Linked DNA regions of Homo sapiens. The protein of the gene in region 2 interacts with the protein of the main gene of each other region in a pairwise test. Each region holds a gene or a part of one and is shown on either strand. Other genes may lie near its edges.

Evidence for each region.
Region 1: the proteins of KIAA1328 (region 2) and CFAP206 interact in binary tests that used the Homo sapiens proteins (3 or more experiments, as listed by UniProt).
Region 3: the proteins of KIAA1328 (region 2) and MTMR9 interact in binary tests that used the Homo sapiens proteins (3 or more experiments, as listed by UniProt).

What each region holds. Positions count from the first base shown.
Region 1 is NC_000006.12:87,459,051-87,465,732, reverse strand, and holds the end of CFAP206 (cilia- and flagella-associated protein 206), read right to left. Parts: intron 4,712-6,682; coding exon 4,568-4,711; intron 1,714-4,567; coding exon 1,483-1,713; 3' UTR 1,268-1,482; downstream 1-1,267. UniProt on the Homo sapiens protein: Essential for sperm motility and is involved in the regulation of the beating frequency of motile cilia on the epithelial cells of the respiratory tract. Required for the establishment of radial spokes in sperm flagella.
Region 2 is NC_000018.10:37,062,621-37,071,308, reverse strand, and holds part of KIAA1328 (protein hinderin), read right to left. Parts: intron 4,442-8,688; exon of another isoform or gene 4,420-4,441; coding exon 3,764-4,419; intron 1-3,763. UniProt on the Homo sapiens protein: Competes with SMC1 for binding to SMC3. May affect the availability of SMC3 to engage in the formation of multimeric protein complexes.
Region 3 is NC_000008.11:11,300,895-11,309,582, reverse strand, and holds part of MTMR9 (myotubularin-related protein 9), read right to left. Parts: intron 4,743-8,688; coding exon 4,569-4,742; intron 3,394-4,568; coding exon 3,176-3,393; intron 57-3,175; coding exon 1-56. UniProt on the Homo sapiens protein: Acts as an adapter for myotubularin-related phosphatases. Increases lipid phosphatase MTMR6 catalytic activity, specifically towards phosphatidylinositol 3,5-bisphosphate and MTMR6 binding affinity for phosphorylated phosphatidylinositols.

The sequences.
Region 1 (6,682 bases), on a different chromosome or scaffold from region 2:
AAGGTGGGCAGATCACTTGAGGTCAGGAGTTCAAGACAAGCCTGGCCAACATGGTGAAACCCCATCTCTACTAAAAATACAAAAATTGGCCAGGCGTGGTAGTGCACACCTGTAATCCCAGCTACTTGGGAGGCTGAGGCAGGAGAATCACTTGAACCCAGGAGGCAGAGATTGCAGTGAGCCGAGATCGCGCCACTGCACTCCAGCCTGGGCAACAGAGCAAGACTCCATCTCAAAAACAAATAAACAAAAACATTTAAGCTACACAGAAAGCAAATTATACAAATGCCTTAGTAAAAGGTCACCTGAGCAGAAAAAAATACGCCAAATACAAATGACCTCCTAGCTACTAAAGCAAGATAAACAGCCCTTCCTAGAAGCTTTATTATCCATGAATTGGTATTAGAAGTATGTAAGACAGTAATAAAACCACAGTTATAAAATATAGCTACCAGCAATTCATGGGAGCTTTAAACACAACTGCCTATGCAGTCAGGCAAATAAGGCAAAGCAGTGACGTGGGAGGCCCATAAGGCAGCAGGAACTAGATTAGGCAATGGAGGATTGAAAGTGCCTGCCCTATGAATGGGCAAAGCTACTACTTGCAGGAATGCTGGCCAAGTGTTAGCAGATATTCTGATTTCTTCTTTTTTTGAAGGGCCAGAAATACAAATTTTATGTCAAATTTCTACATTTTGAAAAACACCATGTGAGGTGGGCATGGTGGCTTATGCCTATAATCCCATCACTTTGGGAGGCTGAGGCAAAAGGATCTCTTGAGCCCAGGAGTTCCAGACCCGCCAGGGGAATATGGTGAAACTCTGTCTCTACAGAAAATTGTTTTAAAAATTAGTCAGGTGTGGTAACACACGCCTGTGGTCCCAGCTACTCAGGAGGCTAAGGTAGGATTGCTTTAGCCCAGGAGGTCGAGGCTGCAGTGAGCTGTGATTGTACCACTACATTCCAGCCTAGGTGACAGAGCAAAACCCTGTCTCAAAAAAAAAAAAAAAAAAAAAAGAAAGAAAAAAACATCATGTGGACCTTTGCTCCAATTGTTCCAAATTAGTAAGGTTTTGTTACATATCAGTTTAATCCATGTTAACATTTAATAGCTAACAGAGCTGAAAATATTGATTAGGTTTTAAGTTTGTAACGTTTAACATTAAATATGGTTTAGAAATAGACTTCTATTCCAGTAATAATCTTATATTTATATCTAAATGTTATCATAATTTCAATCTTAATGCTGACAAATTTTTCTAACAAATAAAAGATAAATGGACAGTTTTATTTTTCAATTTCAACAGAATGAAAAATGTGTTACAGAAAACAGTTTGATAAAATATGGGAACCCAATAAACAGTCACACAACCAATGAATGTGCCACCCCTACAAAATTAATTTGTATAGATGTTAATATACCTTTAAGTACTTGCTATTGTTCATAATTGAGTAGCATCTATTTTAAAACGTTGTCTGTAATTAGGTTTCATCCACATCTCTAGTTAAGTTCACCTTGACCTCATCGGTGATTTCGCTCTTTCCTCCACGAAGACCAGCCAAGTAAATCTGAGGCCTGGGCACCCCAGTGCTGTCTTCCCTCATGGACTGGGTGCTAGTGTCCTTTGGAGGGTACACTTGGGAACAATTTTCTCTTCTCAAGTGACTAAGATCAGTTTGTACTGAGTGAGTAACTTTCTGGCGCAAATTAGCCTAAAGAGAAAGAGAATACAGGAATTAACATTTCTCTAAAGAACAAATAACATAAAATATTATCAGATACCAGTTAATATCTGCCTATTTTTGTCTTCAATCCACAAGAAATTAATTCCATAACATAGCATTTTTTCTATAAAACATTGGAAAATCTAGAACATAATAGAAAATTAAATATCCCTTACCAAGACGTAGAAAAATATGTAAAATGTTGAAAATTGACCTCAAAAAACATACAGATTCAAAATTACAGTGAACTCAACCAGTTATTTATTAATATAATCTAATTCCTTCATTATTATACTTTGAGATTCATATAACTTGGATTTTTCCACTATACTTGTTTTCTTTTAACAAAAATATAAGATTTATACAGTATTATCTTTTAAAAATGGACTTCACCCTAGATTTTTAACATAAAAGAGTCTGATGCTTTCCATTTTGTATTTTACAGTATTCTACATTTTGCTTACTCCCTTTATAGATTATTAGTAAACATGAGGTTAAACAGATTACTCAGGCTGGGAAGCAAGGAGGAGCTTATAAAAAGAAGAATAAGGTTGCTGCACTTATAGTAAAAGCCAAGAAAAAACTCAAAAGGCATTATAGCATGTGAGTGAAGAAGGTGACACCTGGAATTAGAGGAAACATTTCAGAGTTTGAGATACTGCAGGTGACTGAGAACCGAAACTACTCCCCAATACCCAGGTTATTGTCCACATTAATATGACTTTACTATTCCATTGTCTTCATTAGCATGATTTTACCATTCCAAGAGACTCTTGCCTAAGCAAATAACTTGATTGCTCATTTCAGTAGTACCTGAGAGATGTGTCAACTCTTCAGTAGTAAGCATCAAAACACAGTTTCAGTCCTAAGAGTCTGCATCCCTTGCCTCAAAAAATCTTCTTGCTATTCCCACCAATGCTGGACTGCTTTTTCATGATCCTTACCCAATCCGATTCAAACCTCCATCCTACCCCCAGTCCACCTCAGTCATTGGAAGACCTGCCTTAGCAAACTTCAAATTCTCAATCAATTCTGACTTTGCAGTTCCTCTTCTGAGACACTGCCAAAGCACTGTTGAGGTGGTGTTTTCCCTTATGGCTGTAAGCAATAAACTCAGCTTTGTCTTATCCACAGGTTAGGTAGGTGACACTTGGGGAGCTGGCATTCAATATAATACAGTTCTAGGGAATAATAAGGCCCAAGGTGAGAGTCAGAATTAAGTGGAGATTGAGGAATGGGAAGAGAGGGCTCAGTCAGTATGAAGTTCAGACCCCTGAATACCCCATTCTCTTAACATTTCCAGTCCATACCTATGCTGTCACCTCTATCTCTCCTATCCTATCCAGCCATCACTTCCCTCCTCCTCTTTGCCTATTTGTATCTCAAAAGCAACATAAAATATCACCTATGTTAATTTAGTAGAATTTTCATTTCACTTCTGTTACACCACTTACAAGGAGGTACCACTTACAAGGAGGTACTGAAATATTTTTAATGTAACAGTATCACTTGCTAGAACAAAGTAGTGGGATATATATGTTACCCAATAAATCTAATGAACTCAAGTGAGTTTAGTAGATAATAGAAAATAATATGGGGGTTGGGCATTTCATGAACTACAGGAGAGTAACTGATAGGAAGGAATACTAATGGAACAATGATCTGGAAGATATATGGGGAAACTGATCCTTCCTCATGCCAGGGAACTGAAAAGCTGCCACCAGAGTGAGTAGCAAAGGAAATAATGTGGTCAGTGGGACTGAATATACAAATGGACTGAATATACAAATGGACAAAGGCTAGACCATATATGACAATAGAACTCTTTGACTTGCAGCCTGTACATCAACCAGTCAGGGAAGCCAGTCTCAACCTCTATAGCTGTAGCAGTTGACCCAGAATGTTGAAGACTTAGCCAACTTCTCCATTTTTTGGCCCCTTCTGCCCCAACTCAGGACCAACCAGAGAAACCTAGATATGCTCACCAAACCAATCTCATAAAATGCCCTGCTTCTAGTTAGCCTGCTTCCAGCTTTCTCATGTTAACAAACTACAATCAGAGAACATCTGAAGGCTTCCCCCTTTTCTGACTATAAAGCTTTCCCACTCCCCTGCATGCTTTGAGTCTACCAAACACAAGTGACAGTGTCTGACTCCCTTGCTACAGTAAGCTCTAAATAAATAGCCTTGCTTTGTTCTCATTTGGGTAGGCATTGTTTATTTCCACACCTGATTTCAGTTAAAGAGATGGATAAAATATACTAAAAAGGGGCTACAGACAAAATATTTTATTTTTTCCATACTATAAATATTTGTTGTTTAAAATGACAAGATACCATAAAGAGGGGATGGTGGGGGTAATTTCACTCAGTTGGACAGGGATGAGAGTTTCAAAGACAGGCTTTAAGGGTAGGTATCTATATTGTAATTAAGGTGACTGAGAATCAGAAGGATGAGAGTGCCCAGGGTCTGGAGATAATATGTTGTTGAGGGGAAAATATCTATGCTTTAATAGAAAAGGTCCAAAAAACAAACAAAAAAAAGAATGGTATACCTTAAGTGATTAAAGGAAGTTGGGAGTGCTTTAAATACTAGCACCAAGTTTTAAAACTGATGATAGACAGATAGATATATAGATATTATCATTGTTCTATATATGCTTAAAATTAGAAGACAATCTTATAATGTAAACCTAGCAAGTTATAAATTATATTTTTGTTAGCAAAGAACTCTGTATAAAACTCATTATTTTATATAAATAATTTAATTTACCAACTCTATGAGTAACAATAGATTAAAATTCCCCAACATATAAATAATTCTAGAAAGTATTGTTACAAACCAATTTTATAGCTTTTCTTCTTAATTCCCATTCATTCCACTCATATGATCTCACAATCGTTGGTGGCAGTATGTGTGTATTCGTCTGTGTGCTACTTTCACATTTTGTAATTGGTTTTATATAATGTTTGTCAGCATCTCTCATCTAAAGAAGTGGAGTTTTGTAGTTAGTGCTTGTAAAAAATAAACATTATTTACTGATAACTAAAATATTTAGCTAAAACTAACAAAACACTTAAAAAACAATAATTTTTGGACATGGAATATACTTGTAAATACCAATAAAGAAAATAAACACATAATTAATGAGCTGAATATAATTGTTTTTCTGGGAATTATGGCTTCGTGATTTTGTTAATGTAGGGGGTGTTTTTTTTTAACTTTTATTTTAGATTCAAGGGGGCACATGTGCAGGTTTGTTACAAGGGTATATTGCACAATGCTGAGATTCGAGGCAGGATTGAACCCATCACCCAGGTAGTGACCACAGTACCCACTAGTTCATTTTTCAGCCTATGCCCCCCTCCCACTCTTTCCACTGTTGCAGTCTCCAGTGTCTACTGGTCCCATCTTTATGTCCATGTGTACCCAATTTTTAGCTCCCACTTATAAATGATAACATGCAGTGTTTGGTTTTCTGTAGAACATGTATTTTGGAAGGAGAAAACATCCCTCATTCCCAAGTCAAATATCCCTCCCCACTTTGCACAACTGATAACATGAGTAAATACCTGTTGAAAATGGATAGAAATTGAAAATAGCTTTATTAGGTAAAAATCACATCTATTTGAACTATCAAAACCTCTTTAAGACATATGTTGAACTCAAGCTATGCATACATAGCAGGTTATTATCCAAGGTTTTTGCTTTGTTTTTAGTTGAATATACTGATTTTCTTTTGGGGAACCCAATATTAAGAATTCACTAATTCCAGGCTAAACAAGACATGATGGTGCTGGACATGACATTGTTGACGTTGTTGGAGGGAGTGGTAGAGGTTTAAGGTACTTAGGTCACAGTAAAAAGGAGGGAGAAGATATTCTTTCCAAACAACAGATAATCACTGAGTGTCTAACATTTGATATAATTTCTGACTATAAAATTATCTTATGATATATTTAGGTAGATTTTAAAAATGCTAAAAAGATAGTTAATAATACTGTACCATACAAGTAAATGGCAAGTAAATTAGACAGCAAGGACTACATGAAAAAGACAGAGATAAAACTCATTTCTGCAGATATTAAAGGTCACTGAAGAACAGGTGGGAATTAAATATCCAGAAAGACAGGAAAAAACAAGACCAGGTGTATAGGAAAAAATTATGCTTTAGTGGAAAACGAGGCATTATCCACATACAACATACCTTTCCAGTCGTCTGATTCTAGCCTTTCACTGTCCTTGGGGTATCTTACAACTCTGTAAGTTATAAGTGAGTGATAGCAAGACCAAATAATTTCTGTCTGTAGACATGCACAGTATATCCTGTCTGTAGACGTTCAACTGACTTCCCTTTCCCCATGTGGAAAAATCAGCATTGCCTCCATTTACACATTCATTTGAATATTCCTGATCTATAAATGTGTCTGTTCTTAGGGTTCTCTTTTGAACTGGTTATAACATCTACCTGGTCCCCTCATTGATTAATGAATAGATTACTCTTAACACATGTTGACTTTTATATCTGCTTATCTGCATGACAATAATTTTACCCATTTCTGAAAACTATCTTTTAACAAATAGAAGACTAGAGCATATAGAACAAGTATTTTAAAACCAGTATATAACTCACAATTTTTCTGACAGAGAGGTCATGGAGGGAATTAGTAGAAATAGAAGGATAAAAAGACATGTATGCCTCGAACACCAGTCCCCAAAATTTGGATTTCATCTTACAGACAAAAAACGGAAGAGTTTTGAATTCAGAGTAAAATGAATGGCATTTTCTAATTTGCAGAAAAATTATTAAAATTTTCTATTGTAAATTTTCCCCTCATAATTTTTCAAAGTAGTTGGCTCCTGCAATCATTTGTTCTAAATTAGAATTTTGTATAACATCTAATTAAGCAAAAAATTACATGTATTAAACTTAAGATAGCAACATTTATAATACTCA
Region 2 (8,688 bases):
TTGAGCCCAGGAGCTCAAGACCAGCCTGGGAAAAATGGCAAAACCCTATCTCTACAAACAATGCAAAAACTAGCTGGGCATGGCAGCACGTGCCTGTAGTTCCAGCTACTCAGGAAACTGAGGCAGGAGGATCACCTGAGCCCAGGAGGTCAAGGCTGCAGCAGTGAGCCATGATCGTGCCACTGCACTCCAGCATGGGCAACAGAGTGAGATCCTGTCAAACCAAAAAAAAAAAAAAAAAAAAAAAAAAAGGAAGAAAAAAATCAAAAACAAAAAAGGAAATATCTGAACATAACATACCAATTAAAAGAAACTGGCTGACTCAAATGCTGTGTCTAAGAAACTGAATTCAAAATCACAACATATATAGGGTGAAAGTAAAAGGATGGAAGAACACACATCTTGAAAACCTTAATAAAATGAAAGTAAGAATGGCTATATTAGCATCAGGTAAAGGAGACTTTAGATAAAAAATTTACGAGGTAGGTGGATCACCTGAGGTTAGCAGTTCGAGACCAGCCTGGCCAACATGGTAAAACCCCATCTCTACTAAAAAATACATATATAAAAACTAGCCGGGCATGGTGGTGGGCACCTGTAATCCCAGCTATTCGGGAGGCTGAGGCAGGAGAATTGCTTGAACCCAGGAGACGGAGGTTGCAGTGAGCCAACATGGTGCCACTGCACTCCAACCTCAGCGACAGAGACTCTGTCTCAAAAAAAAAAAAAAAATTACTGGGGACAGAGAAAGACATTACATAGTGAAAAGATGGTCGATCTACCAAGAAGACATAGCAAACTTAATGCATAAGCAGCAAAGAACAGAAGTATAAATATTTAAAACAAATACTAATAGAACTAATAGGAAAAATAGATATATCACAATTGTACTTGGAGATTTCAAAACGCCTCTGTCAATAATTGATAGAAGTAGGTAGAAAATCAGCAAGAATATAGAAGAACTCAACAATACTGTCAAATAATAGGATACAATTTACAGAACACACCACCCAACAGCAGAATACGTATTCTTTTCAAACATCATGGAACATATATCAAGATAGAGCATGCCCTAGGGTCCTTAAACAAACTTCAATAAGTCTGAAAGAATGAAAAACATACAGTGTGTTATGTGTGCACAGTGGTATCAAACTAGAAATCAGAAACAGAAAACAGGAAAATCTTTAAGAACTTGGAAACTAAATATAACACTTCTAAATAACCCATGGGTCAAATAGGAAGTTTCAAAAGATACCCCAAAAACACACTGAATTGGATAAACATGAAAATGCAACATATCAAAATTTGTGGGACATAGCTGAATCAGTGCCGAGAAGGGAATTTAGAGCACTAAATGCTTCCAGTAGAAAAGTGAAAAAGTCTCAAACCAATATGCTTCCACCTTAACAAATTAGGAAAAAAGAAGAGCAAAGTAAATTTAAAGCAAGCAGAAGGAAGAAAATAATAAAGAGCAGAAATCAATGAAATTGAAAACAGAAAAACAATAACAAAAACTAAATGAAACAAAAACCCAGTTATTTGAAAGATAATTAAAATGAACAAACCTGTGGCAAGGCAGATTATCCAATAGATAATTTGAATAGCCTTGTAAGTATTAAGGAAATTAAACTTGGAATTTAAAAAGTCTCAAAAAATAAATTTCCAGGTCCAGATGGCTTCACTGGAGAATTCTACTAAACATTTAAAGAAGAATTAACACCAATTCTACACAATCTCTTCCAGAAAGCAGAAGCAGAGCGAACATCTCCCAACTCATTTTATGAGGCCTGCATTACCTTGATACCGAAACAAGACAAGGACACAGGGGAAAAAAGAAAAAGGAAAACAACAGAACAATATCCCTCATCAAAACTAATGTAAATAGGCCAGATGCAGTGGCTCACGCCTGTAATCCCAGCTACTTGGGAGGCTGAGGCATGAGAATCCCTTGAACCCAGTAGGTGGAGGTTGTAGTGGGCTAAGATCATGCCACTGCACTCCAGCCTGGGTGACAGAGCAAGACTCTGTCTCAAAAAAAAAAAAAAAAACTGATGCAAATATCCTCAACAAAATATTAGTAAATGGAATTCAGTAACATTTTAAAAAATCATACATTATGACCAAGTGGGGTTTATTTCAGGGATGCAAGGCTGGTTTAATATTTAAAAATCTATGTAATTCACCATATTAACAGGGCAAATAAGACAAATCACATGATCATAAAAGATATTTGACAAAATTCATAAAAGGTATTTGACAAAATTCAACACCTATGATAAAACTTTATATAATCCGTAACAGAAAAAAAAGATAAATTGGACTTCATTAAAATTAAAAATTTCTGCTCTATGAAAGATCTCATTAAGCAACTAAAAAGGCAGAGTCAGGAGCAGTGGCTCAAATTCCAGCAGTGGCTGTAATTCCAGCACTTTGGGAGGCTGAGGTGGGATAATTATTTAAGTTCAAGACCAGCCTGGGCAACAGAGTGAGAGCCTGTCTCTACCAAAAGAAAAAAAAATTAAAGATAAAAAAGAAAAGACAAGTTACAGACTGGGAGAAAATATTTGCTATTCACATATCTGACAAAAGACATATATCTAGAAGATATGAAGAACTCTCCAAACAGCAAAACACCCAAATGATCCAATTAGAATATGGGCAATACTGAAGAGAGAATTTACTGAAGAAGATAGGAGGGCAAACGTGCACACACACAAAAAGATGTTCAACATTACTAGCCATTAGTGAAATGCAAATTAAGACTGCGATGAAATGTCACTATACACGTATTAGAAGAGGTAAAATAAAAATTAATGAGAATACCAAATGCCAACAAGGATGTGGAGTAAAGAAACATTATATAATAATAAAACAGCAATTTATCTTTTGAAGCACTGTTCTTAGGAAGAATTGTTAAGGGAAGAACAGCCTACATGTGGATAGGTGTATGAGAATTCATCATTCAACAGGTCATGCTTCATGGCCAGAAAGGGTTGAATTTAGAAGACTCCCATCACTTGTTATATTTTATATTATGGTGGGTAGACATAAATTCGGAATGATGACAGCTAATCTCACTGCTTTACAATCTAATTCCACACCCCGAAATCTCAAGCTTTTACTTAATGCCTAATATTGTCCACAATGATATCAAACAGCAAAGGATTCTGCATAATGGCAAGATCATTTTAAAATGTCTTTGGAACCCAGCAAAAATTACACCAGACTGCTCAGAAATAGATATTCTAAGCTATCAATTTGGAAGACAAGGTAATCTTTGAAGTCTTCCAAAGAATAAAGGGGAATTTACTTAGTAGACATAACTGATATGCATCTCGAGTAAGCCAAGATCCAGAAAAACCTCTGGTTCTACCCATCTGCTATAGTATTACAACAATTTTACACTGTGCTCTCCAAACTACAGACATTGCTAAAAGAACAGGCAGGACTTGGGCAGGCGCGGTAGCTCATGCCTGTAATCTCAACACTTTGGGAGGTCAAGGCGGGTGGATCATGAGATCAGGAGTTCAAGACCAGCCTGGCCAAGACAGTGAAACCCCGTCTCTACTAAAAATACAAAAATTAGCCGGGCATGGTGGCGGGCGCCTGTAATCCCAGCTACTCGGGAGGCTGAGGCAGAGAACTGCTTGAACTCGGGAGGCGGAGGCTGCAGTGAGCTGAGATTGTGCCACTACACTCCAGCCTGGGCAACAGGGCGAGATTTCGTCTCAAAAAAAAAAAAAAAAGAACAGGCAGTACTCACCAATTGTAATCCAGTCGAGACTGGTGAAGCTGCTGCTGTTTTAGAAGAAGCTTTGTCTCCTGCTGGGCCAGCAGATGCTGAAGGCGCTCCTTTTCAATTTCCAGTTCCATTTTCTGAAGCATCAGTTGCTGCTTTCTATCTTCTGAGATCTGCTTTTTCAAAGTTTCAATGGGTTGCAGTGCCCCACCACCATGCACCAGAGATGCCCAAGAAAGCCGACAATAACTGCATGATTCTGGATGTGTCTTAGGATGTTGAGGGGTCATGTTTGTAGGATGGCTGTCATGAACACGATCTGCAGCAAGTCTATGACCACAGCATTGACTAGGAGTAGGCTTAAGATGTGGACATTCCTTCATGTGCAATTCTTCTTGTGGCATTTTCTCTGTTGGGACTGCAGGTTTTCTCCCTGGAGATTCACAATTACATGTTGTGGTCTCTGATGGTATCTTATCTAGATCATCTTTGGGATGATGAAGGGTTACTGGTTTCAAAGAATTATTCCTAAATGCTATAAGGGATTCTGAAGCTGAATCCTGGACTGCAGACTTAGGTCTTTGCTTGGTTTGATAGTAGGTCTGTGGTCTGGCTATGCTCAAGTAGGAACCATCCAGTTCCACAGATGAACACTGGAGAGTGCTTTTTCTACTGGATACCTAGAAAGAACCACAAGATCACCTGTCAAATAAGAACACAACAAAACAAGTTCTTTCGTTTGGTTTTTCAGAAATCAGTGATATATATTTACCAAGCCAAAGCTGTTGTTTTGTCTTAAATATTAAATTATAGCATTCACACAGCTAAACAGACTTGTGCCCCAAAGCTACATCCATTTTCAAACAACCTACCCTTCAGTAAATCTATATAAAGATAAGAAAAATAAGTTGCTGCTACATGTTGCTTAAGCATGATCTTTGGTGATTTCTGGAGTTGCAAATAAAGAGAGTTACATAAAGTCAATTTTGAGAAGAGGTGAAAGCCTTAAACATGAACATCGTAAAATGTTTACTTTTGAATACTGAGCCAAGGAATCCATTCAGTCACTTTAAATACTCTTTGGCCATTACACAGCATGAGACTTGATGTAAAACATTTCACCTTATACTGAATAGAATGTGATTTACTGGTAGAATCTTGATGAGGTTTTATAACTATCTTTACAGAACACAGATAAAACCAACCACTTTCAACAAAATAGGATTCTAATCAAAAGCGTTATTTAAATACAAAAAATACTTAATTTCATCTACAAACATAAGTGATTTTTCAATCTATTCAAGTGATTAGTCTGATAGAACTCGGGCAGAAAGGAAGCAGTTGCAAATTATCTCTGACATGTCAATAGAGTCAGATTTTCCAACATTTTAGCTGTAAGTCTGTTCTGTCAGCGAGAACAAAACTTAATCTGTATCAATGATTCTCAAACTTTAATGTGTAGCAGAATAAACTGAAGGGTGCTTGTCAAACATGAAACTATAGCTTCATCCCCAGAGTTTCCAAATCTTTCTGTCGGAAGCAGAGTCAGAGAATTTGCTCATGTTGCTGATCTGGGACCACACTTTGAAAACTATTGGTCTATATCATGGAACACCTCCATCTGCCTTACTGTTGAGCTTGGCCTGGGAAGGTTGAGTTGTTATACTTAGCTCATCTCTGAACATCGCTGACTTAGTATAACTAAGCAGCTTTTCTTCACAGTGTATTTCAGAAACATGGTGTATCTAGATTCCACGTTGTCCAAACAGAAATATTATAGTTTAATGTAAATGTTGCATGTGTTTCAAATGAGCAACTTGCCCATGAAGGTAGACACTTGTAATTAACAAAATAATGAAAGATATTAATGTGTAAGAAAGAAACTTAATCAAACTAAACTGAAGGAGGTGCATTTCTGAAAATGAATCCAGCTAACGATCAGACTCTTCCAAGGGTAGCCCTTTATAACATAAAAACTTCCCTTCAATTTAGATCTGGAGCACAGCAAAAAAGGGCCTCCAAGTCCAATTACTTAACTAGCAAGATGGGTTGTTTGAAAATGTGTTATTCCTAGCAGCTGTTATTTCTTTTGAGCAGCCAGAGTATAACCTTTAACACAAATCTGAAAGGAACAAATCCACTTGTGGAGAGGCCTTGTTTTCCAAGGCCTATTTACTCTAGATATACAGATTCAGTCTTTAGTGAAAGCTAAAGAGAAGGTAAGAGAAAGAAACTAAGCAGACCTAAACAAGTGAAATATCTGACAGCTTCCACTAACACTTCCTCTTCCCTCAGGCTTTCATTCAAGGCCCACTTATGTTAACACTGTACTTTCTTGCCATTTTCTATTTCTATTCAAACAAATCCAAAAAATCTTCTGTGTATTGAACACTTATATTAACCAAACAAGCAAAAATTCTTAATCTTCTATCCATATCCTCTGAAATAGTCTCACTTTTCACACACAATTATTTGCATGCTATGGGGAAGCTTATTTGCTCAATGCTGCAAGAGAAATATGAGTTTTTCAGTAAACAAATATATTACAACTACTGTATTAGTTTCCTACTGTGGCTATAACAACTTAGCACAAACTTTGTGGCTTAAAATAACACAAATGTATTATCTTACAATTCTGGAAGTCAGAAATTAGAAATCTGTTTCACTGGGCTGAAGTCAAGACGTTGGGAGGGCTAGTTCCTTTGGCTCTGAAGACAGAATCAGCTTCCTTGCCTTTTTTAGCTTCTAGTGGCCACCTGTATTTCTCACTTTTATAGCCCTTCCTCCATCTTCACGGTGTGTCACTCCAACTCCTGCTTCCATCATCATCACACACTGCCTTCTCCTCTGACTCCTTCTGCTCCTTCTTAGAAGGACCGCTTGGATTTGATTGGGCCTACCTGGGTAATACAGTTAATTTCCCCCTCTCGAGAGCCTTAATCACATCTGCAAAGTCTCTTGCATTACAAAGTCCCTTGTGACACATAACGTGACATTCGGGAATTAAGACATGGTCATATTTGGGGGGGGGGGTACTTTCAGTCTACCATGCCTATTTTTAAATAAAAAGTAATTTAAAACAATTGAAATAGCTAGCTACTCCACAGACATAAAACAAATGAATGAGAATAAATGAGATCCCTAGTATAAGGGGAGAAAAATCCCACCAATTTATTTCGCAATAGTTGCAAATGATGGACTGATGGGTAAAAAGTATCAACTAACAGAGATACACAGCAACATCATGTTTCTTATCCTATGATAAAAGAATGAAGGGTATTACAGTGATTAAGATTTTAATTGAATGACTGTAGTAATGCTAAAGGATTTCTATTTAAATGAGAATGAAGAGAAGACTTGCTCTTCTTCAAAGAACACAGGCAATCCTGTACAGCAAACAGATGACAAGCAATAGAATATGAACCAGCGCTAGGCAAAATTTCTAATAAGCTACTTCACAAAAAAATTAATTTATTTTACATCTAAAGGGAATCTCTAGTCTACATTAATCTCTCCTACTCTGAACTTCTATAGTACTTACTGCCAGTACAAACATTTAACATTTATCACCTGCTACTTAGTATGGTAAACTATCTTTTACTAAAAGGTCAGAAATTACTAGATATATATATATATTTCAAATGACAGGTAAGTTTTTAAAAGATCCAGAAACTTAAATATTTTATATTATATATTCATATCCAGGTTTTATAGTCTCATTTTTGTTTCATAACATTATTTACATATGTCCATTTTTAGGTACTGACATATTCTACACTTACTTTAATGGTACTAACTGTGAAATTATCCACAAAATCAAGTATTTGGAATAAATTAAAAAATTTTTTTCAGTTAATGTTTCCTGTTTTTGAGAGGTAGTACAGCTTAATGATTTTAACGAATGCTTTGCCTAGAGAGCAATGCTCTGTCAATTACCTGCTTGGTTACTGTGCATGTGTAATAGGCAGAATTCTAAGATGCTCCCCGTGATTCTCACCCCCTAGTGTACGCAACTTTTATTATCTTCTTTCCTTGAGTGTAGGGAGGACCTGTGAATATGACAGGATATAAATCCTGAGATTATATTACATTTTATGGCAAAACAGACTTCATATGTAACTAAGGTTCCTAATCAGTTGACTTTGAGTTAATAAAAAGGGAGACTATCCTGGGTGTGCTTGATCTAATCAGGTAAGCCCTTTAAAAGAAGGTCTTATCCTGCTCCCTCATCCCCCACCCCACATAAGGTTGGAGATTCTTCTGCTGGCCATGAAGAAATAAATTGCTATGTTGTGGGCGGGCCAATCAAGTGGCAAAAACATCTGGAGCAGAAAGCAGTCTCCAGCCAACAGCTAGTAAGTAAATGGGACATGTATCACATAGATGTAAGAAACTAACTTCTGCCAATGACCATGTGAATTTGGAAGAGGACCTTGAGCTCCAGATAATAATGCAGCCATGTATACATATGTAACAAACCTGCACGTTGTGCACATGTACCCTAGAACTTAAAGTATAAAAAAAAAAAAAAAAGGAATGCAGCCCAGCTGAACTTTAATTGCAGCATTGTTAAGAACCTAGGCAGAGGACCCAACTAAGTTGTGCCCATACTCATGACCCACAGAAACCGTTGTGAGGTAATAAATCTGCATAGCTTTAAATTACCAGGTTAGTGGTAATCTGTTACACGGCACTATAAAACTAATACAGCACATTACTCAAATTGCCTAAGCAATTTGAGGTTGCTCACCAGTAAAACACCAGTTTTACTCAGGTTCCTCACCAGTAAAACAGGGATTAAAAAATGCATCTATTGGCCGGGCGCGGTGGCTCACGCCTGTAATCCCAGCACTTTGGGAGGCCGAGGCAGGCAGATCACGAGGTCAGGAGAACGAGACCATCCTGGTTAACACGGTGAAACCCTGTCTCTACTACAAATATAAAAAATT
Region 3 (8,688 bases), on a different chromosome or scaffold from region 2:
TTTGGTCATTACAAGCTTCCACAAGTTTGATTAAGCTCTCCTGAAGAATGTGATACCTTTTAAAAGTAAGAAAGTAAAAAATAACAAACCCAGAAAATAGAAAGATAAAGAAACCAAACCAAAGATTCAGCCTCCAACATATCTAAGAGCAAAAGTAGTTCAAAATACTATAAAAATATTTACCCTGCTATAATTTGAGGATTAAAGGTTGAAAAACTAATATTTAAACATTGTTGCAAAGGCTTAAAATGCCTGCCATGGTAACGTATTCCTTACCTGAACAGATTAAACCCAGTTCACATACCTGGATTATCTGACTATAGGAGAGGCCAGAGCCCTGCGTTTCATGACAGGTCAGGAGACACAGCACCACTTACATTTGCAATCCTGTTCCCACCGATCTAACACTAGAGACCCAGTGCCATCAGCAGCCTTACCCAACCCAGCTTGGATCCCACTGTTTTCTAGCTACAGCTCCCATTCACCCACCTAGAGACACTTATAAATCACTCTTTTACAGTACAAACAAGAGACAATAGGTGGAGGAAACTGTGCGAAAATAGGTCGATATGGGGAGAAATTAAATCTCTAAAGTCTTTGACTTAGGAAAATATAAGTATATGTAGCAAATCTGTTCAGTGTAGCAACTGCTGATCTACCTGCAGAGGAGCTGGCCTTGTGGTGATGAGACCACAGGGTTGGCTTAGAGAAAGAATGCTAGTGAAAGGGACTCCTGCAGGCCTCCAAGAGCACAGCTTTCGCCTATCAAACACAAAGGCTGGCTGTTCAAAAAGAAAGATAAAACTAACAAACCTTTAGCTGAAGGTTCTTTCACTAAAAACAGAGAGAAAAACAATGCAAATGCATACAATCAGAAATAAAGATGAGATATTACAACTGATATCACAGAAATACAAGGGATCATAAGAGACTACTGTGAACAATTACACATTAACAAATTGACTGGATAATCTAGAAGAAATGGATAAATTCCTAGAAGCATACAACCTACCAAGACTGAGTCATGAAGAAAGAAAATATGAACAGACCAATAATGAGTAAGGAGATTAAAAAGACCTCCCATCAAAGAAAAGCCCTGGTCCTGATGGCCTCACGCAGTACCTGATTTTAAAATATGCTACAAAGCTAAAGTAATCAAAACAGCTTGGCACTGGCATAAAAACAGACACATTGACTAATGGAACAGAATAAAACCCAGAAATAAATCCATGCATTTATGGTAAATTGATGTTTGAAAAAGTTGCCGAGAACATACAATGGGGAAAGGAGCTTCTCCCATGAGTGGTGGTGGAAAAACTGGGTATGCACATGCAGAAGAAACTCAACCCTTACCTCACACCATACTCAAAAATCAACTCAAAGTAGATTAAAGACTTAAACATAAGGCCTGAAACTGTAAAAATCATTAGAGGAAAACATAAGGAAAAAGCTTCTTGACATTGGTCTGGGAAAAGTTATTTTGGATATGACCTCAAAAGCAGAGGCAACAAAAGCAAAAATAGACAAATGAGACTGAACAAACTAACAAGTTTTGCACAGCAAAACAATCAACAGAGTAAAGAGACAACCTATGGAATGGGAGAAAACATTTGTGAACACCACACTGGATAAGGGGTTAATATCCAAAATATGTAAGAAACTCAACTCAACAGCAAGAAAACACAAAACCTGATTAAAGAATGGGCAAGACCTGAACAGACATTTCTCAAAAGAAGACATATAAATGGCCAATAGGTATTTGAAAAAAAAAATGCTCTGCATCACTCATCAACAGAGAAATGAAATTCAAAACCACAATGAGATATCACCTCACCCCTGTTAGAATGGCTATTACTAAAAAGACAAGATTTAACAACTGTTGTTGAGAATATGGACAAAAGGGAACCCCTGTACAATGCTGGTGGGAATGTAAATTAGTATGGCCACTGTGGAAAACAGTATGGAGGCTCCTCAAAACATTAAAGATGAAACTGCAATAAGATCCAGTAATCCCACTTCTGGGTAAATATTTTGAATATCGGAAACGAAATCAGGATCTCAAAGAGGTATCTGCATTCCCACGTTCACTGCAGCACTATTCACAATAGTCAAGATATGGATTCAACCTAAATGCACGTCAATGGATGAATGGATTAAGAAAATGTGGTACAATACACAATAAAATACTATTCAGCCTTAAAAAAGAGGGTAGGCCAGGCACAGTGGCTCATGCCTGTAATTTCAACACTTTGAGGGGCCGAGGCAGGAGGATCACTTGAGGTCAGGAGTTCGAGACCAGCCTGACCAACATGGCAAAACCTGGTCTCTGCTAAAAATACAAAAATTAGCCAGGCGTGGTAGCAGGCACCTGTAGTCCCAGCTACTTGGGAAGCTGAGACAGGAGAATCACTTGAACCTGGGAGGCAGAGATTGCAGTGAGCTGGGATCGTGCCACTGCACTCCAGCCTGGCTGACAGAGCAAGACTCCATCCCAAAAAAATAAAATAAAAATAAAAAAGAGGGGAAGCCTGTCATTTGCAATAGCACAGATGAACCTGGATGACATCATGCTATATGAAATAAGTCAGGCACCCATGCACAGAAAGATAAACACTGCATGAACTCACTTATATGTGGAATCTAAACAAGTTAAACTCATAGAAACAGAGAGTAGAATGGTGGTTGCCAGAGGAAGAGAAAGTAGCAGGAGGGGTCGGGGTAGGAGGGACACAGATATGGGGACATGTTGATCAAAGGTAACAACAAAGTTTCACTTAGGAGGAATTAGTTCTGTAGGTCTATTGTACAGCATGGTAACTGTAGTTAAAACTAATATATTGTATGCTTGAAAACTGCTAAGAGAATAGATATTAAATGTTCTCACCATCCAAAAAAATGATAACTATGCGACGTGATAGGTTAATTCACTTAATCAGTTCACAATGTATATGTATATCAAAATAGCACAGTGTACATCACAAATACATGTAATTTTTATTTGTCAATCAAACCTTAATAGAGCTGACCAAAAAAAAATGAGAAGATGGCTAGCCCATCATTGACCCTAAATTAATGCAGAAGTTAATTTGAGCACTTGTGATTTTCAAATGGCTAAGGCCTTACCCACTATAATTAGCTTCTAATAAGAGTCTGTACTATCTTTGGAATCTTTTACCTCTCAATGGACTTATGAATTCGCCTCCACTGAGGATAATGAGCTTCTTGTTCAAAGCCACCTCCTTTGGCTCTAGTTTGCTGAGCCACGTTCAGGGATCGGGTGTCAATGATGTAGCCACGCTTTCCAGCCCTGAGGGTAGCATTTATCAGCTTCTCGTCCTCCTTGCACCTCCTCCCGTTTGTACCAGTGAGTGGCTGACCACTTCGCATAATTACCTAGAAGCATAATAAAGCTGAAAATTCAACAGCAGTTGCTTTTAAAGTTTCTGAAAACAGAAAGAAATTAGCTAGATTAAGAGTATCTCAAAAACAATTGTGTGACACTCTGCAGATGGATTTGATCCATAAACAAAGAAATATTTGCATGTATTGACAATAGTTAATAACTATAAAAGATAAGCCTTAAGCTTTTACACAATTTCTCTGTCTCAAAATACTGTCACATAATAAATTATATCTCCTCTTTAAGATCAAATATTGCAATTCATTTAGTGTGTGAATCAAATACCTGTAGACCTGGACCTGTAATAAAGACAATAATGGCCTATGAGCCAGTAAACCTTGACTTCAACTAAACATACATAGAGTTGGCAGGTTTTAACAACAATTATAAGAAGTAAAGGCACCAGTGGCAAAATTTAAAAGTTCAAACACTGTTCTCATTGTTTGGGAAATCATTTTCACTACCTCAGAAGCTGACTGTCTATTATGTATTCTCCAGTGGCCTCTACCATCCTTTTCAGTATTCAAGGATTTAACTACTTGTTTCTAAAAACTACCCCACCAACTATACATCTGGAAATGTTTGCTTTTGAAACTTTTCTCTAGAAATCAATGTCTATTATACTAATCTCTTCCCTGGCGAATGGTTTAGAGTTCTTTCAAGACGCCACCATTACAAGGTAGTTATCTTAACTCCTTGTTTAATCCTGACTCCAGTGTTTACTAGAGTTGTGACTAAATGACATGAGCATCACTCTTTTCACCTTTGAAAATAAATACGTCTGCTCCACCTTTCACGTGTAAAGTTGTTAAGAAAAATTCAAGTATTTTACCATTATTCTGAACAGAGAAATTTCTCATTTTTCTACCAGAAGAATGTTGCTGTAAGCATCAAATAAACACTAGTTTCCTTTGTATAGTGTCCTGGAGATAAAGCTATCAGGGCTTTTATACGGCTGAGCAGGATCATGGAAAGAATTCAGCATCACATCCTCACCACAGAAAACACCCTACTCCTGATTCCCTAAAGCTTACATGAAGGAAGCCCTTGTGGTGGAGACCTGGACAATCATTTCAGTGAACAGACAGAGAGCAAAAGGGAACATTTCTACGAAAAGATCCCCAACCCAAGCCTTTCAGTACATCAAGCAGTAGTGCTGTGCACTTACCATCCCATTTTTTTTGTGGTAATAGCTTAGTACTGGGAAGCGCCCTCCATGTCGAAATGTAGCTACCTTCCGAAGAGCTTCATCATCGATGGATTTGGGCACTGTGACAATTGGTGGGTAAGAGGGACAGACAGCAAATTCCTTATTGACATAGCTTAGCCTCCATTCACTGGTCTGAAAAACACAAAATACTTCAAAGCTAAGCAACTATCTCAATGTCGCAAAATAATCTGAGAAATTTTAAAAGACCTTAGAGGTCAACTTTCACTGATGAAGAAGCCATTTCTCAGGAATTTCACAGGTGGATCTCTAGCTTATATGTAAGTAGCTGCAGAGAAAAGGAGCTCTATGGTTCAGGGCCAGCTTCCTGCATTGCTAGGTATCACCAGTTCCCAGAAAGTGCTTTCTCACACTGAGCAAAACTTGTTGCTCTGTAGCTCCCTCTATTGGTTTTTACTGTACTTTCAGACAACACCGTACAAGTTCCCTATTTTACACGGTATCCCATCAAATGTTTGAAAGACAGCTGATCCTCCTTAGTGTTCTATTCTCCAAGTTAAATATATTAAGCACATCCACAATTATCACGGCCAACATCATCCTACTTCTTCCTTTTCTGGGTCCCATTTAGTTTGTTAATGATCCTCTTAAAGCACAAGTAAGACTGTACGACTCCAGATAATGCATCCCCAGAACAAATGAGAACACAGCTACTATCTATATCAAACCCTTTGTTTATTTTAAAAAAGGTAAAAAATGTACTAAGATTGGTAACACCTTTCTTAAAACAGTACCAACTCAATACTAAGGAAGGTTAAGCTTAGGAGTCAATGAAATAATTTCAAACTGAGTAAGGACTAGAAGTATACAATATAAAACTATCAAATGACAACTTATTTTAAACATCAGAATTAAAAACAGCTTGAACACTGTCAAAAGGTTTTACAGTAAAAAAAAAAAATCAAATTATATGTAAATTTCAATATGTTCTGTATATCTGAGTTGGCCTAACCATGGGTTACAATAGCAGGAAGATAAAGCTAAAAAGTATGTTAGACGTACTAACAGACAAGATTATTACTTTTAAAAAATGCTTTTATAAGATACAGTATCACATTTTTAATTAAATTTTTTCACTTTTCAAAGTTATTTATGTTACCAGTTTAAAAACATAGTTTCTAGGCTGGGCACAGTGGTTCACACCTATCATCCCGGCACTTTGGGAGGCCAAGGCAGGCAAATTGCTTGAGTTCAGGAGTTCAAGACCAGCCAGGGCAACATGGCCAAACCCCATATCCACTAAAAATGCAAAAATTAGCCAGGCACAGTGGCACACACTTGTATTTCCAGCTACTTAGGATGCTGAGGTGAAAGAATCACGGGAGCCCAGGAAGTCGAGGCCACAGTGAGCTGTGACAGCGCCACTGCACTCCAGCCTGGGCAACTGGAGTGAGATTGTTTCAAAAAATAATTAATTAATTAATTTAAAAAAAACACAGTTTCTAAAGATTTATTATTTTTAAAAAAATGTAGTTATCTGTTCCTTGCTAGCCCATCCCAATTTGCTTTCCCCAAAGGCAATCATTTTCAACATTTTTAGCTTTTTCAGTGTTTACCTTTACATTTCTAAACAACATGATAATACTGTTATTTCTTGAACTTTCACTATGATATATTATTATTGATTTCCTACTCTGGAGAATGACAGGGCTCTCCATTGATCTGCAATGCCGCTTCTGTTGGTCCAAATGTACTGTGCTCTCCATCCCGTCGCACTTGTCCACTTTAGTAACTCCTATAGCTTTTAAAATAAGTTTGGTATCTAGTAGGCCAAGTGTCCTCCTCTCACCTTTTTGTTCTTCAAAGAGTAACGTGGCTCCTCTTGGTCTTTTGGTCTTCCATGCAACTTTTATCAAATTCAATATAAAAACCAACTGGGGTTTTTATTAAGATTGTATTGACTTTATAAATCGGAGGGAATGACTTACATCTTTAGAATATTCAGTCTCTCTATCCATGAGTATATTGTCTTTTCCATTTGTTTAAGCTTTCAAAATTTTTTCCATAAATTTTTATAATTCTCTCAATAAAGGTCTTACTATCTTTTCTTAGATATATTCCTAGAAACCCAATAATCTTTGTTGCATTTTAACTGCATCTCTTCAAAATTGTGTTTGGTGTACAGAAATGCCTATGATCTCAAGATTCTTTCCTTTTCCTATGTAGACAAGCATATAATCAATAAATATTGACAATTTTGCTACCTTCATTTCAATCCCTATACCCTGTATTTTTCCTTCTTGTCTTATTGAGCTGACTAGAAGTAGTCACAATGGACATCCTTGCCTCATTCTTGAACTTAGAGAGAATGATACAAGATTTGCTTTTTTTATGTTTTTGGTTTTGGTACCCATCCTTTATCAGATTAAATAAATTTCCTTCAAATCCAACTCTAAGAGCTTTTATCATAAATAGATATTGATCAAACTTTTTTCCTCTGTTAATCTAACACCATGCAGGTCATTTGTCTTTTAACTTTGTGGTATTTTCTTTGCTTTATTGTTCAGTAGCTGAACAACAACATGTCTAAAGATTTTTTTATTATCTTGTATGGTATTTGCTGGGATACCTCAGCTTAAGGGTTCAATAACTTCTACTGATTCTGGAGAATTATCAACCATTATGCATTTGAATATTGTCTTTCTTCTATCATCACCTTTTTTTTTTTTTTGTCTTCCTCTTTTTTTTTTTTTTTTTTTTTGGAGACAGGGTCTTGCTCTCTCACCCAGGCTGGAGTGCAGCGGCATTATCACTGCTCACTGCAAACTCAACTTTCTGGGCTCAAGCCATTCTCCCACCTCAGACCCCCAGGTAACTGGGACCAAAGACACACATTATCACACCTAGCTAAATTTTTTCATAGAGATGGGGTTTCACCATGTTGCCTAGGCTGGTCTCAAACTCTCCTGAGCTCAAGTGACCTGCCTGCCTCAGCCTCCTTAAGTGCTAGGATTATAGGTGTGAGCCACCATAACCAGCCTCTATCATCTTTTATCCTAAACTCCCATGTAATAAATATTGGATCTTCTTCCTTTATTAAGCATGCATGTGTCTAACCTCTCTGTTTTTCCATCTTCCTTCTCTGTTCCATATTCTGAGTAATTATTTCGGATCTATATTTCAAATCACTTATTTTCTCCTAAGCTGTTTCTAATCAGCTACTTAACATTTGCATTAGATTATTCTTTTATCTTCTTTTTAGTCAACTTTGAGACAAAACTTATAAAAAATAAACTGAATCCATTTTGACTACACAATTTCATGAGTCTTGACAGTTGTATACACCTGTGTAACACCCAATACTAGGAAATCACTAACCTGCTTTCAGTCACTTTTGGTGTCATATCTAAAAAATCTCTGTCTAACTGAAGGTCATAAAGATTTTCTCCTGTGCTTTCTTAAAGAGGTTTGATAGTTTTAGTTCTCATGTTTAGTTGCATAATACATTTTAGTTAATTTTTGTGGATGATGTGAGGTAAGGGTCTAGGTTTATCTTTTTTACATATGGATATCCAACTGTTCCAATACTATTGGTTGAAAAAGCTATCCTTTCCCAATTGAATTGTATTGGTACTTTTGTCAAAAATCAACTGAGCATTAAGGGGAAGGTTTATTTCTGTACCCTGTATTCTGTTTCATTGGTCTGTATGTCTTCGCTTACAGCAATACCATACTCTCTTGATTACTGTGGCTTTACAGTAATCAAGTGTTTTCTCAAAGCTGTTTTGACTTTCCATATAAACTTATATATTTAAATTTGCATTTCCATAAAATTTGTATCATTTTGTCCATTTCTACAAAAACACCTATTAGAATTTTAACAGGGATTGCACTGACTCTACAGATCAATTAAGGGAGAACTGCCACTTTAATGAGCCAAATCCAGCCTGCTACTTGTTTCTGCAAATAAAGTTTATTAGAACATAGCACCACCCATTCACTGATGTCTCATCTGATTGCTTTTTTCATGCAACAACAGCAGAGTTCAGTAGTTACAACAGAGACCACATGACCTGCAAAGCTTAAAATATCTACTATCTAATGGTCTTTCACAAAAGTC